Homo sapiens: one gene and its partner. The protein of the gene in region 1 interacts with the protein of each later gene in a pairwise test. Each region holds a gene or a part of one and is shown in the gene's direction. Other genes may lie near its edges.

Region 1 (7,000 bases):
AGTGATCCGCCCGCTTCGGCCTTCCAAAGTGCTGGGATTACAGGTGTGAGCCACCACGCCCTGCCTCAAACATCCTTCTTTACTAATCAGACTGTACCTGCTCTTTGAGGAAACAGACTGTGCACCAGGTAGTCTTGGGGCTCAGGGAGAGGGTGGTTATGGCTGGGGCTGGCAGTCACCTGTGCTCAGGAGGGACCGGGGGACCGGTCTGGCAGACTTGAGCAGGAGACCAAAAGAATCTGGAACCCTTGATCAGATCAAGGTGGGTCTTACTCTTAGGTCCATTGTTTAGGTCCAGTGTTTGTCACACCGTCACACAGGGCTGTGGCAGTGGGAGAGTGAGGATTGTCAAGTCGGAGAGTTTGTGCCTGTTGTCCTCCTTAGAGATGTCACTTGTGCAATTCTCTGATATCCTTTAGAACGGTGGTGTTGGATGTGGGGACTTCTCAAAGGCTCCTGAATAAAATGTACAATGGGAGATAGTGACTGAGGGGCTGGCTGTTGGGATTGCTGATCAACTTTTCCCCTACATTTTGCAGGGCTGGGGGGACACATTAGGTGCTCATTTAAATGCTGGGTGGAGAGACAGCAGGGTGATTGGATAGACGGAAGGATCAGTGGGTGTGAGAGGAGGTGGATGGATGGATGGAGGGAAGGATGGCTGGATGGATGGTGGGGATGAGAATGGATGGCTGATCAGGCCAATGAACAGACGATGCGTGGCTGCTGGCAGGACAGTGAGTGGACAGGGTGGTTAGATGGAAGGGGAGGTATCTTTCCCTGCTCACTGCTTGTCATCCTTTGCTTTCAGCTTCGGGCAGCAGAGGTGGAGATCAAAGATCTGCAGTCCGAGTTTCAGCTGGAGAAGATCGATTACTTGGCCACCATCCGCCGGCAGGAGCGTGACTCCATGCTCTTGCAGCAGCTCCTGGAGCAGGTGCAGCCCCTGATTCGCAGGGACTGTAACTACAGCAACCTGGAGAAGATTCTGCGTGAGTCCTGCTGGGACGAAGATAACGGCTTCTGGAAGATCCCACATCCCGTCATCACAAAAACCAGCCTCCCAGTAGGTCAGGAGCTTGGCTGGCCCTTGCCCTCCCCTCCCTCCTTCACGGCTTACCATCCTGCAGACTGGCAGGGAGTGTGGGCCTCTCCTTGCAGGCTGTGGGTGTAGAAGACACGTGACCCTGGGTACCTGATGCGTCAGGACTCTGAGAAAGTGGTGTGTTCTGGAGGCAGACAGATGTGGGTTGGAATTCTGGCAGCACCGTTCCCTGTGTGCCCTTTTTGGGACTCGGTGTCTTCATCTGTGAAATGGGGATGAATAACAGCACCTTTCTTAAAGTTGCTGTAAGGTTTGAAATGTGTTAATAGGCCAGGTATGGTGGCTCACGCCTGTAATCCCAGCACTTTGGGAGGCTAAGGCTGGCAGATTGCTTGAGTCCAGGAGTTCGAGACCAGCCTGGCCAACATGGTGAAACCCTGTCTCTAAAAAAAAAAAATAGAAAAATTAGCCAGGCATGGCAGCATGTACCTGTAGTCCCAGCTACTATGGGGGCTGAGGCGAGAGGATCGCTTGAGCCTGGGAAGTCAAGGCTGCAGTGAGCCAAGATCGTGCCACTGCACTCCAGCCTGGGTAACAAAGTGCGACCCTGTCTCAAAACAAACCCCGAAAAAACAAAAACCAGAAATGTGTTAATACACAGAAAACCCTTACAGCAGTGCCTGGCACATAGTGATGCTCGCTGCATGTCATTGTTATCCTAATCAGCATTGTCACTGGTTCATCCTTACGACAGCCCTGAGAAGACAGGTTTTCTACCCATTTCACATAGGAGGACACAATCTCAGAGGGTCCAAAGTCACAGTCACAGCAGTGAGTGGGAGGACCATGGATCAAAACCCACAGTTCAGAGTTTCAGGCCTGGTTCCACTTCCGCTCTTGCTGCTGACCTCCCGTATGGCCTTCCGAAGATCACTGTCCCTCTCTGGGCTTCTTTACAAAGAAGGGGTTGGATCAGATGACCTTGAAAGCCTCCTCACCTCTGATGAGTCTCAGAGTAAAGCCAGACATGCTGTGGCTCTTTCTCCAGCCGTGGACCTGACTCTGCCCATTTGGGGAGCCCGCAGTGCCCCCCAGGAGTCCTCCCTCTTGCTCAGCGTGTTCATCCAGGTCCAACATCTCTGATGTTTATTGACACCATCCCTGCTGAGACCCCAGCCCGCCTCCATTTCCCACATGCTCTGGGATGCAGCAGCCTTCCTGTCTGTCCCCACCCTCGCCTGCTGTCTTGCCTGGAAGCCCCTTGGCTGCTGTCTTGCCTGCAAGCAGATGAGGGTCTTCTCTGGTGCCTGAGCCCCTCCTGCTGTCTGTTTCTTAAAATTATCCCTTGGCTTGGGCTGGGAAGTGTCCTCCCCTGTTTAAGCCTGAGCCAGGCCTGACCCCCACCTCCACCTGTGCCCTCCTCTAGGCCTTGCACCAGGCAGCAGTGACTTCAGCTTTTGTTTTCTCATAGCAGTTTCAACTGGGCCACAGAACAAACCAGCCCGCAAAACCTCTGCAGCAGACAATGGCGAGCCGAACATGGTGAGGACCGCGGGAGAGGGAGTGGGGTGTCGGGGGCTGGGAGGGCTTTGCCCCCAGTGCTGTGGGTCAGTGTTACTGTGGAGAGCTGGTTTTCCACTTTCCTCCCGCCTAAGGATTAAAGAAGGGGCCAAGGCTGGATCCTTTTCATGCCCCTCCATTGGCACCTAGACCCTCAACCCCCTCTGGCCCTCATTCAAAGGTACTCACAGTCATAAATACCAAGGGAAAGTAGATGGTTCGGTGGCCCATCTTGCCGGTGAAGGACAGAGACTTCAGCCTCAAACTCAGAGGACAAGCAGCACATTCTGGTTTCCTGCTGGTAATCCTCAGACCAAGAGGGTCCTCACAGGGTTCATGAAGCAGTAATTGGGATTCCTAAGTCACTTTATTTTCCCGTCTCTCATATTCTGTCTTTTTTTTTTTTTTTCTTTTTCTAAGCTCAGTGGCAAGACCTATCTCCTATATTTTATAGTGCAACAGAAATGCATGTTCTTAAAGCATGGGTGGTGGTGGTTGTTTTTTTTTTTTTTTTTTTTTTTTTTTTTTTTTTTTTTTTGAGATGGAGTCTCGCTCTGTCACCAGGCCGGAGTGCAGTGGTGCGATCTTGGCTCACTGCAACCTCTGCCTCCCAGGTTCAAGCAATTCTCCTGCCTTGGCCTCAGCTGGGACTACAGGCGCGCACCACCATGCCCAGCTAATTTTTGTATTTTTAGTAGAGACAGAGTTTCACCGGGTTGGCCAGGATGGTCTCGATCTCTTGACCTTGTGATCCTCCTGCCTCAGCCTCCCAGAGTGCTGGGATTTCAGGCATGAGCCACCACGCCCGGCCTCTATTTTATTTTATTTTATTTTATTTATTATTATTATTATTATTATTATTATTTCGAGACAGAGTCTCGCTCTGTCGCCCATGCTAGAGTGCAGTGGTGCGATCTCGGCTCACTGAAAGCTCTGCCTCCCAGGTTCAGCCATTCTCCGGCCTCAGCCTCCCAAGTAGCTGGGACTACAGGCACCCGCCACCAAGCCCGGCTAATTTTTTGTATTTTTAGTAGAGACGGGGTTTCACTGTGTTAGCCAGGATGGTCTCGATCTCCTGACCTCGTGATCTGCCCGCTTCAGCCTTCCAAAGTGCTGGGATTATAGGCGTGAGCCACTGTGCCCAGCTAAGCGGGGTGTTTTCAACGAAACTCTTCCAGTTTTTTAAGTTAGCTGGGAGCTACTGTCCCCAGCAGCCACCAGAGGCCCAGACAGAAGGGCACCAGCGGGAGTCCACCAGTCCCTTGGGGTGGCCTGGTCAGCAGGCACAGCTTCCATGACACAACTCCATGAACAATGATATGAAAGTTGTTATTATTTACAGATCCTCAGGCTAGGCAGGGCCACCAGAGAGGGACCCAAGCAGCTGGACCCCCTCTTGGTGTCCTTGTGTCTGGGCCTCTGGTGGCTGCTGGGGACAATAACTACCAGCTAAGTTAACAGAGAAACTCTAAGAGTTTTGTTCAAAACAAGGGGTCAACAAAATTTTTCTGTAAAGGACCCGATCATAAATATCTTGGGCTTTGTGAACTATGTGGTCTCTGTCACAGCCACTCAACTCTGCCACTGTAGCACAAAAACAGCCACAGGTAATACACAAATGAATGGTGTTCCAATAAAACTTTATTTACAAAAATAGCCTGCAGGCCAGATTTGGTCTGTATGCCATAATTAGCTGATTCTGCCTTAAGCCATTACAAATATTTCAGAAAACCCACATAGAATATACCTTTACAGTTATGATAAGACCACTCCTAGGCTAATGAATTCCAACCAAACATCTCTGGCTGAGCAACTCAGGCTGCAAGGGGCCACTCATGGTGGTCTAGAGCTTGATTGGCAGCTTCATAAAAAAGGGAAAGTTGCTGCCAGGAAAAAAGACATTCTTAATCTGGGACCACAAAGAGGTTATGTCAGAATGCTTTCAGCTCCAAGCGATAGATACCAAAGCAAACAACCATAAGAAAAATAAGGAATTTTTTAGTTCATGTAAGTGGACCAGTTTCAGGCACGGCTGGATCTAGGGGCTGAAACAGTCAGGGTCTGTGTCTGTCTTCACCTCTTTTTTTTTTTTTGAGACGGAGTCTTGCTCTGTTACCCAGGCTGGAGTGCAGTGGTGCAATCTCGGCTCACGGCAAGCTCCGCCTCCCAGGTTCACACCATTCTCCTGCCTCAGCCTCCCAAGTAGCTGGGACTACAGGTGCCTGCCACCATGCCCGGCTAATTTTTTGTATTTTTAGTAGAGACGGGGTTTCACCATGTTAGCCAGGATGGTCTCAATCTCCTGACCTCGTGATCTGCCCACCTTGGCCTCCCAAAGAGCTGGGATTACAGGCATGAGCCACCGCGCCCGGCCACCTCTTTTTTTTTTTTTGAGACAGAGTTTCACTCTTGTTGCCCAGGCTGGAGTGCAGTTGTGCGATCTCAGCTCACCGCAACCTCTGCCTCCCAGGTTCAAGCGATCCTCTTGCCTCAGCCTCCAGAGTAGCTGGGATTACAGGCATGCACCACGACGTCCAGCTAATTTTTTTGCATTTTTAGTAGAGACAGGGTTTCTCCATGTTGGTCAGGCTGGTCTTGAACTCCTGGCCTCAGGTGATCCGCCTGCCTTGGCCTCCCAAAGTGCTGGGATTACAGGCGTGAGCCACTGCTCCTGGCCTATGTCTTCACCTCTTGTTCCTGCTTCCCTTGGTATGCTAACTGAAGGCTTTCTCCACATGGCCGGAAGGATGGCTGCTGGCCATTGGTGATCCAAAAGGAAGAGAGGCCTGGTCTGTTAAAGCAACTGTCCCCAGTCTTTTTGGCACCAGGGACCAGTTTCGTGGAAGACAATTTTTCCACAGGTCAGGACGGGGTGGGGGGTCTGATAGTTTCGGGATGATTCAAGTGCATTACATTTAATGTGGACTTCATTTCTATTAGTATTACATTGTAATATATAATGAAATAATTATATAACTCACCATCATGTAGAATCAGTGGGAGCCGTGAGCATGTTTTCCTGCAACTAGACGGTCCCATGTGGGGGTAATGGGAGACAGTGACAGATCTTCAGGCATTAGATTCTCATAAGAACCACAACCTGGATCCCTCACACGTGCAGTTCACAATAGGGTTTGCCCTCCTATGAGAATCTAATGCCACCACTGATCTGACAAGAGGTGCAGCTCAGGCAATAATTCAAGTGATGGGGAGCAGCTGCAAATACAGATGAAGCTTCACTTGCTCACCTGCCGCTCACTTCCTGCTGTGCAGCCCAGTTCCTAACAGGCCAGGGACTGGTACCAGTCCATGGCCTGGGGGTTGGAAACCCTTGTCTTAAAGCATCCTGAAACTAGAGCTTGGGGAGAGATTCTGATTGGCTCTGCCTGGGTCATGTGTCTACTCTTGAACCAATTACTGTGTTTAGGAGGATGTGGTTCTGTGATTGGTGCAGTCTGGGTCACATGTCCAGCTGTGTAACAACAGGATGGGAGTCAGATGTAGTATAGGGCACTATGAATGCTCACCCCACTGGGATGTCAAGTGGAAGAAGGACAATTCCCTGAAAAGGGAGATTTAGATTGAAGAAAACAAGTCCATAATAGTGGGGAAAAATAATAGCTCTTGGTGATAAGAAGGTTTGGATTCCAGTTCTAATGATCACAAATGTACCTGTGAGCTGAGGATAGCAACGCATTGCCTATTCTATGAACATGTCGTGATAGATTTGGGGCTTGTGTATCAACCCGGCCCCCCTGTTGGAGCTGGCAGGACACCCTGTTTTGAGCTTTGTAGGACAGAATAAGGCACTTCCCATCTCAAGGAAGGGGAGGCCGGGTGCAGGCTTGGCTGGAGACTGACTTCCTGGCCCCGAGCTGCCTGGGATCCCACCCCCGAGTCCAGGATCTACGGTGTAGGGTACACCAGAGTGGGCAGTGCCTGCTCCAGCCCTGTGACAACTTCGGGGAAGCTCGGGGCGGCCCCCACTGCCCCAGGATACCAGAGGCTGTGGAGCCCTGTGCCAGGGGCACAAACAAGGGGACGTGACCACGGGCATCTGCATCTCGGCAGGAGGACGACCGCTACAGGCTCATGCTCAGTCGGAGCAACAGTGAAAACATTGCCAGCAACTACTTCCGATCTAAGCGGGCCAGCCAGATCCTCAGCACAGACGCCAGGAAGAGCCTCAGTGAGTGTCCCTCCCCTGTCCCCACCCTCTCCACACAACTGGGAGAGGCGTGAAGGGGATAGTTTTGAAGTCAGACAGGCCTGGGTTCAAAAACTCCTTTCCCTCTCGGAGCCTCAGTTTCCTTAGCTACAAAATGAGGGGGGTAACACCAACTTCTTAGGATTAGGTGATACGAGGTGAGGAAACGGCCCAGCCCGGGCGCTGGT
Region 2 (7,031 bases), on another chromosome or scaffold:
GGCCAGGACAGCCTTGATCTCTTGACCTCATGATCTGCCCACCTGGGCCTCCTAAAGTGCTGGGATTACAGGCGTCAGCCACCGCACCCAGCCTTTTTTTTTTTTTTTTTTTTAACAGGGTCTTGCTCTGTCACCCAGGCTGGAGTGCAGTGATGCCGTCACAAATCATTGCAGCCTCAACCTCCTGGGCTCAAGTGATCCTCCCACCTCAGCCTCTCTAGTAGCTGGGACTACAGGCATGCCACCACACCAGGCTAATTTTTTGTAGAGACGAGGTCTCACTTTGTTTCCTACGCTGGTCTCGATCTCTTGGGCTCAAGAGGTCCTCTTGTCTTGGCCTCCCAAAGTGCTGACATTACAGGCGTGAGCCACTGTGCCTAGCTCCACACGCCAGCTTTTTTTTTTTTTTTTTTTTTAATTTTAAGTTCTGGGATACATGTGCAGAACGTGCAGGGTTTGTTACATAGGTATACATGTGCCATGGTAGTTTGCTGCACCCATCAACCCATCATCTAGGTTTGAAGCCCCGCGTGTGTCAGGTATTTGCCTAATGCTCTCCCTCCCCTTGTCCCCCACCCCCCAGGCTCCAGGTTTTATGTCTACATTCCAACCACAAGAAGGGGAAAAAAGGAAAATGGCACCCCTTCTTTTTATTTTTTGAGACGTAGTCTCACTCTGTCTTCCAGGCTGGAGTTCAGTGGCACGATCTCAGCTCACTGCAAGCTCCGCCTCCTGGGTTCACGCCATTCTCCTGCCTCAGCCTCCCGAGTAGCTGGGACTACAGGCGCCCGCCACCACGCCTGACTAATTTTTTGTATTTTTAGTAGAGACGGGGTTTCACCGTGCTAGCCAGGATGGTCTCAATCTCCTGACCTTGTGATCCGCCCGCCTCGGCCTCCCAAAGTGCTGGGATTACAGGCGTGAGCCACCGCGCCCGGCCTCATTTTCTTACCCATGTTGTTTTTGTTCCTGCGCTCCTGTGCCTGTCTGCTGTGCTGAGCTGCAGATGTGTCCTGCCGCGGCTTCGCAGGACAGGGATAAGTTGAGACAGGAAGCAAGAAGCCTTGCCTGTCAGGCTGCCCTTGGCATGACTAGAGTGTATGTGGGGATTTTCACCTCTTATTTTGGGGTCCATTCTGTTCCTTCTTTGAACAATAGTCTTTACAGGATAGGGTGTTTGGGGACAGATTTCATCTTATTTAAGATATAAATAATATAAAATTAACCCACTATAAATTTATTTTTCATTTAAAAAAATTTTTAAAAGACAGGCTCTCACTCTCCCACGCAGGCTAGAATGTGGTGGTATAGTCATAGCTCACTGCAGCCTTGAACTCTTGGGCTCAAGCCATCATCCCACCTCACACTCTTTCCCGGCCGGGCACCCCTTCTTTTTGAGGATACTTCCTGGAAGCTAGTTGCCTACTACACCCCCTCCTACATCCCATGTACCAGAACTGTGGTCATGTGGCATGCTTAGCTGCAAAGGAGAATGGAAAATTCATGCAGGCAGCATGTGGCCAGCTCAATTCACCAGCACTGTCACTGAAGAATGGGAGGCTGTCAGCTGCATATGGGGGCAGTGATTGTGTCTATCTCTTCCCAATGTCTAAAATGGTGCTTGGCACACAGTAGGCACTTAATAAGTATACGTTGAATGGGCCGGGCGCAGTGGCTCATGCCTGTAATCCCAGCACTTTGGGAGGCTGAGGCAGGCGGAACCTGAGGTCAGGAGTTGGAGACCAGCCTGGCCAACATGGTGAAACCCCATCTCTACTAAAAATACACAAATTAGCTGGGATGGTGGTGCACATCTGTAATCCCAGCTACTTGGGAGGCTGAGGCACAAGAATCACTTGAACCCAAGAGGCGGAGGTTGCAGGGAGCCGAGATCATGCCACTGCACTCCAGCCTGGGTGACAGAGACTTTGTCTCAAAAAAAAAAAAGGATATGTTGAATGAATGCATGAGTGGATAGTGGGGAGACCAGGGATCTACTCCAGGATAAACACCACACAGAATGGCCATCAGGATCTGGGAGGATGTAGAGTTTGCAGAGGAAGATAGCCTTGCAGGGACCACAGCACAGTGACGCACGCTCTGGTACCATGGAGCCACTGAGAGCACTGTCGTGGGCAGCAGGCAGACCTGAGTCCAAGTGTGGCTCCACCACTCACTAGCTGTGTGACCTTGGGCAAGCCCCTTACCTCTCTGAGCGTGTACCTGCTCATCAGCTAAAGCAGGGGTCATACCAAATCCTTCTGCCTTACAGGGCTGTTGTGAGGATTACCGAGTGCCTAGCACAGTGCCTGGCCTGCAGTAAGTGCTTTATAAATGTTAAATAATGTTAACTGGTTTTTAGAGGTAAGTGCTGAGTGTTTTGGGGAAACGTAGAGGAGGGGCCTCTAACCTAGCTTTGGAGGCTGTGGAATCAAGGAAGGCTTCCTGACAGAGGGGGCAACCTGTGTTGAGACTTGAGGGACAAATAGTTACACAAGGGAAGAGTGTTCTCCACAAAGGGAACAGCATGTGTGAAGGCCAGAGGTTAGAAAGCACAGGGCCTGCTCAGTATTCAGTGTGGCTGCAAGATGAAGTTGGGGTTAGAATGGGCTGAGAGTGTTTGGAAGTGAGGCTGCAGGGGTCATCAAAGGCCAGGGCCAAGAAGGATGGATTTAGGTGGGATGCAGTGGCTCATGCCTGTAATCCCAGCACTTTGGGAAGCCCAGGCAGGAGGATCACTTGAGCCCAGGAGTTTGAGACCAGCCTGGGCAACATAGTGAGACCTCCATCTCTACAAAAATAAAAATAAGAAAGATGGATTTGGCCAGTAGGAACACGGGACCTGAAGATTTTCAGGCAGGGGAGAGGGAAGACAGGCCGAGCAAAGGAGAGACATCAGAGAGCCAAACCCACCCCATCTATTGGAGAACAAGGCCATGGAGGTCAAAGCAAGTTCTTGTGACCTCATTGGCCGGGGGTGGCTGTTGGGGTGAGGGCAGCCCTGCATGGGACCAAGGGCAGGGCTGGGTATAGGTGAGGATTGGGGTGGGCTGCGACATCACCCCTCCCTCTCCCCTGCCTGCAGCTTCGGGGTGCTGCTGTGGGAGCTGCTGACGGGGGAGGTCCCCTACCGTGAGATCGACGCCTTGGCCGTGGCGTATGGCGTGGCTATGAATAAGCTGACGCTGCCCATTCCCTCCACGTGCCCCGAGCCCTTTGCCCGCCTCCTGGAGGGTGAGCCGGGGCCCCGTGACGAGGGTAGGCTCAGCTTGGAGTGGCAGGGACCTGTGGGCCCAGACCTTTCCCCTTCACACCTATCCATACCAGTGGGCCCAGGAGTGAGGAAGAAGGGGCTGGAACCCACTGGACTCTAAACAGCCTCCCCATGGTTGGCTCCATCCCCCACATCCCAGCCCTTGTTTGGGCCAGGCCCAGAGCTCTCAGGACAACCTGTTAGGATTCCTTGGCCCTGGGATTCCACCTTGATCCTGATTCCACTACCAGCCCCTCCTCGGGGTGCAGGTCCCAGGGTTTCTCTCCCAGCGTTTCACTGAGTGGAATTGGCCAGGAGCTTGGCTTTGAATCCCTTCCCCTCAGCTCCATAGCAGCTGTTTGTCTGCCATCCCCAGAAATTCTGCCTTCCTCTGAGCAGGCTGAGTCCCCAGAGCATGACCACTGACACCTCCATGCCCCACCACTGTCCTTCCTCCTCCCACCCCAGAATGCTGGGACCCAGACCCCCACGGGCGGCCAGATTTCGGTAGCATCTTGAAGCGGCTTGAAGTCATCGAACAGTCAGCCCTGTTCCAGATGCCACTGGAGTCCTTCCACTCGCTGCAGGAAGACTGGAAGCTGGAGATTCAGCACATGTTTGATGACCTTCGGACCAAGGAGAAGGTGAAGGCAGGGGGCAAGGTGGGAAAGATGGAGCAAGACCCCTGAGTTCTGATGCCTTGGGCTGCTCAGAGACTCCTCCCCTGAACCCCAGCCTTTGGGTCCATGCAGGGTCAAGGGAGCCTTTTTTGCATATTAAGAAAAGACAGCCTCCTGTTGGTGGATTAATAAGAAAAAGGCACCCTGTACTGAAGTACTTACAGGTGACACTGCATGATGTCTGGGGTTGGCTTTAAAATACTACAGCAGAAACGAAGAGAGGGCAAGAGGAGAGAAGGACGGGGATACAAGATTCGCAAAGCATAGGTAATTGTTGAAATTGGATGATGGGTACAGGGGGGTGCACTGTTCTCTGCTTTTGTGGATGTTTGAAGTTTTCTAAATTGAAGAGTTAAGAAAGAAAAAGAAAGAAAAAGCACCCCTTTCTTTGAGCTAACACAGTTCCCTGCCCTGGCACCCAGCTTGGCTAGCAAAGCATGAGTCGGGTGGTGAAACCAGTGTACCCCACAGCAAGGTACCCTTGTGTGAGGCACCAACCAGACGCAGCAGCCCTGGGTCCCTCCCCAGGAAGCAGAGCAGCTAAGCCCCTCCCCCCAGCCACCGCCTCTCCTTCCCAGGAGCTTCGGAGCCGTGAGGAGGAGCTGCTGCGGGCGGCACAGGAGCAGCGCTTCCAGGAGGAGCAGCTGCGGCGGCGGGAGCAGGAGCTGGCAGAACGTGAGATGGACATCGTGGAACGGGAGCTGCACCTGCTCATGTGCCAGCTGAGCCAGGAGAAGCCCCGGGTCCGCAAGCGCAAGGGCAACTTCAAGCGCAGCCGCCTGCTCAAGCTGCGGGAAGGCGGCAGCCACATCAGCCTGCCCTCTGGTACCCACCCGTGTCCCCAGAGCGCCCCCCAAGAGGCTGCTGGGAGCAGCCCCGACCTAGGATTTATCTCTTCCTTTTCTTTTTCAACTTGTTTTTATTGCTAAATATATCGCACATAGTCAGTGATCAGCCCAGTGCAGTGGCGAGCACTTGTAGTCCCAGCCTACTCAGGAGGCCAAGGTGGGAGGATCACTTGAGGCCAGAAGTTTGAGACCAGCCTGGGCAACATAGACCCCATATTTACCAAAAAAAAAAAAAATTTTTTTTAATTAGCTGGCCACGTTGGCATGCACTTATAGTCCAAGCTAGTGGGGAGGCTGAGGTGGGAGGATCACTTGAGTCCAGGAGTTCGAGGCTGCAGTGAGCTGTAATTGCACCACTGCACTCCAGTCTGGGCAGCAGAGCAAGACCCTATCTCTAAAGGGAAGAAGAAGAAAAAAAGAAAATGACCAAAAACCTGTACAGCCAAATGAGTTACTCTAGTCACCCCCATGAAAGCAGAGAGAACCTCACAGCCATCCCAAGTGCTTTCTACCTGCCCCTCCAGACAACCTCACACCATCCCCTGAGAGGAACATCTGTCTTGACACTTAGGACAGTCACTTCTGAACTTTCTTTTTCATGTTATCTCTCTTTAAAAATATCTTTTAATCTGGCCAGGTGCAGTGGCTCACGCCTGTAATCCCAGCATTTTGGGAGGCCAAAGTGCGTAGATCACTTGAGGCTAGGAGTTCTAGAGCAGCCTGGCTCTAGAACATGGTGAAATCCCGCCTCTACTAAAACTACAAAATTAGCTGGGTGTGGTGGTGCACACGCCTGTAATCTCAGTTACTTGGGAGGCTGAGGCACAAGCATCGCTTGAACCCGGAAAGCAGAGGTTGCAGTGAGCCGAGATTGTGCCACTGCACTCCAGCCTGGGTGACAGAGTGAGACTCTGTCACAAAATATATAATTAAGATATACATATATATGCTGATATTTGACCATTTTTTTACCTACAAAAACAGAAGTTTCACATGGATCAACCTAATAGTTGGATCTCAAGACTTAATCAGATTCAGATTCAGGTTTGATTTTTTTTTTCCCCACACTGCTTCCCAGGTAATGCATTCAGGAGGGAGGCACGTAGTGTCTACTTGTCTCTTTCTGTGATGTTACAAGCCAGAAAGCAGTGCCTTAAGCAGCAGTGGCCAGTGGAAATATAATACAAGCCACGTGTATAATTTTAAATTTTCTAGTAAGCTACACATAAAAGCAAAAAGAAATAAGAGATGTCAATTTTAATATTTTTTATTAGGCCAGGTGGGGTGGCTCACGTCTGTAATCCCAGCACTTTTTGGGGCTAAGACGGGCAGATCACCTGAGGTCAGGAGTTTGAGACCAGCCTGACCAACATGGAGAAACCCCATCTCTACTAAAACTACAAAATTAGCCGGGCGTGGTGGCGCATGCCTGTAATCCCAGCTACTCAGGAGGCTGAGGCAGGAGAATCGCTTGAACCTGGGAGGCAGAGGTTGCAGTGAGCCGAGATCGCGCCATTGTACTCCAGCCTGGGCGACAAGAGCAAAACTCCATCTCAAAAAATATATATATTTTTTAATTTAGCCCAATATATCCATGCAATCAATACAAAATAATTGTGAGATATTTTACCTTCTTTTTTCACACTAAATCTTTGAAATCCAGATGTATTTTATATTTATGGCACATCTAAATTTGGACAGTAAATTTTCATTAAAAATTTTTTTTTTTCTGAGATGGGGTCTTGCTATATTGCCCAGGGTGGTCTTGAACTCCTGCGCTCAGGCAGCGCTCCCACTTTGGCCTCCCAAAGTGCTGGGATTACAGGTGTGAGCTACTGTACCTGACCCATCAAAAATATTGGATCTGTATTTAGATTTCATAAAAGTTAGAGTTGAAAAAGTACATATACATACCCAAGTTGCTCCAAACATGCTTAAATGTTTCCAATAACCAAATGGAGTACCTGTTTTTTGTTGTTTGTTTTTTTGTTTTTGTTTTTGTTTTTTTTGAGATGGAGCCTCGCTCTGTCACCCAGGCTGGAGTGCAGTGGCATGATCTCGGCTCACTGCAAGCTCTGCCTCCCAGGTTCATGCCATTCTCCTGCCTCAGCCTCCTGAATAGCTGGGACTACAGGCACCCGCCACCACGCCTGGCTCTTTCTTTCTTTTTTTTTTTTTTTTTTTTTTTTGTATTTTTAGTAGAGACAGGGTTTCACCGTGTTAGCCAGGATGGTCTCAATCTCCTGACCT

The links. Proteins that work in one complex are often made in the same cells at the same time.
Region 2: the proteins of KIF17 (region 1) and MAP3K10 interact in a two-hybrid assay, tested with the Homo sapiens proteins (one study listed by BioGRID).

What each region holds. Positions count from the first base shown.
Region 1 is NC_000001.11:20,666,008-20,673,007, reverse strand, and holds part of KIF17 (kinesin-like protein KIF17), read left to right. Parts: intron 1-811; coding exon 812-1,070; intron 1,071-2,516; coding exon of another isoform or gene 2,517-2,519; coding exon 2,520-2,587; intron 2,588-6,676; coding exon 6,677-6,794; intron 6,795-7,000. UniProt on the Homo sapiens protein: Dendrite-specific motor protein which, in association with the Apba1-containing complex (LIN-10-LIN-2-LIN-7 complex), transports vesicles containing N-methyl-D-aspartate (NMDA) receptor subunit NR2B along microtubules.
Region 2 is NC_000019.10:40,201,400-40,208,430, forward strand, and holds part of MAP3K10 (mitogen-activated protein kinase kinase kinase 10), read left to right. Parts: intron 1-3,085; coding exon 3,086-3,234; coding exon of another isoform or gene 3,235-3,258; intron 3,259-3,721; coding exon 3,722-3,897; intron 3,898-4,511; coding exon 4,512-4,758; intron 4,759-7,031. UniProt on the Homo sapiens protein: Activates the JUN N-terminal pathway.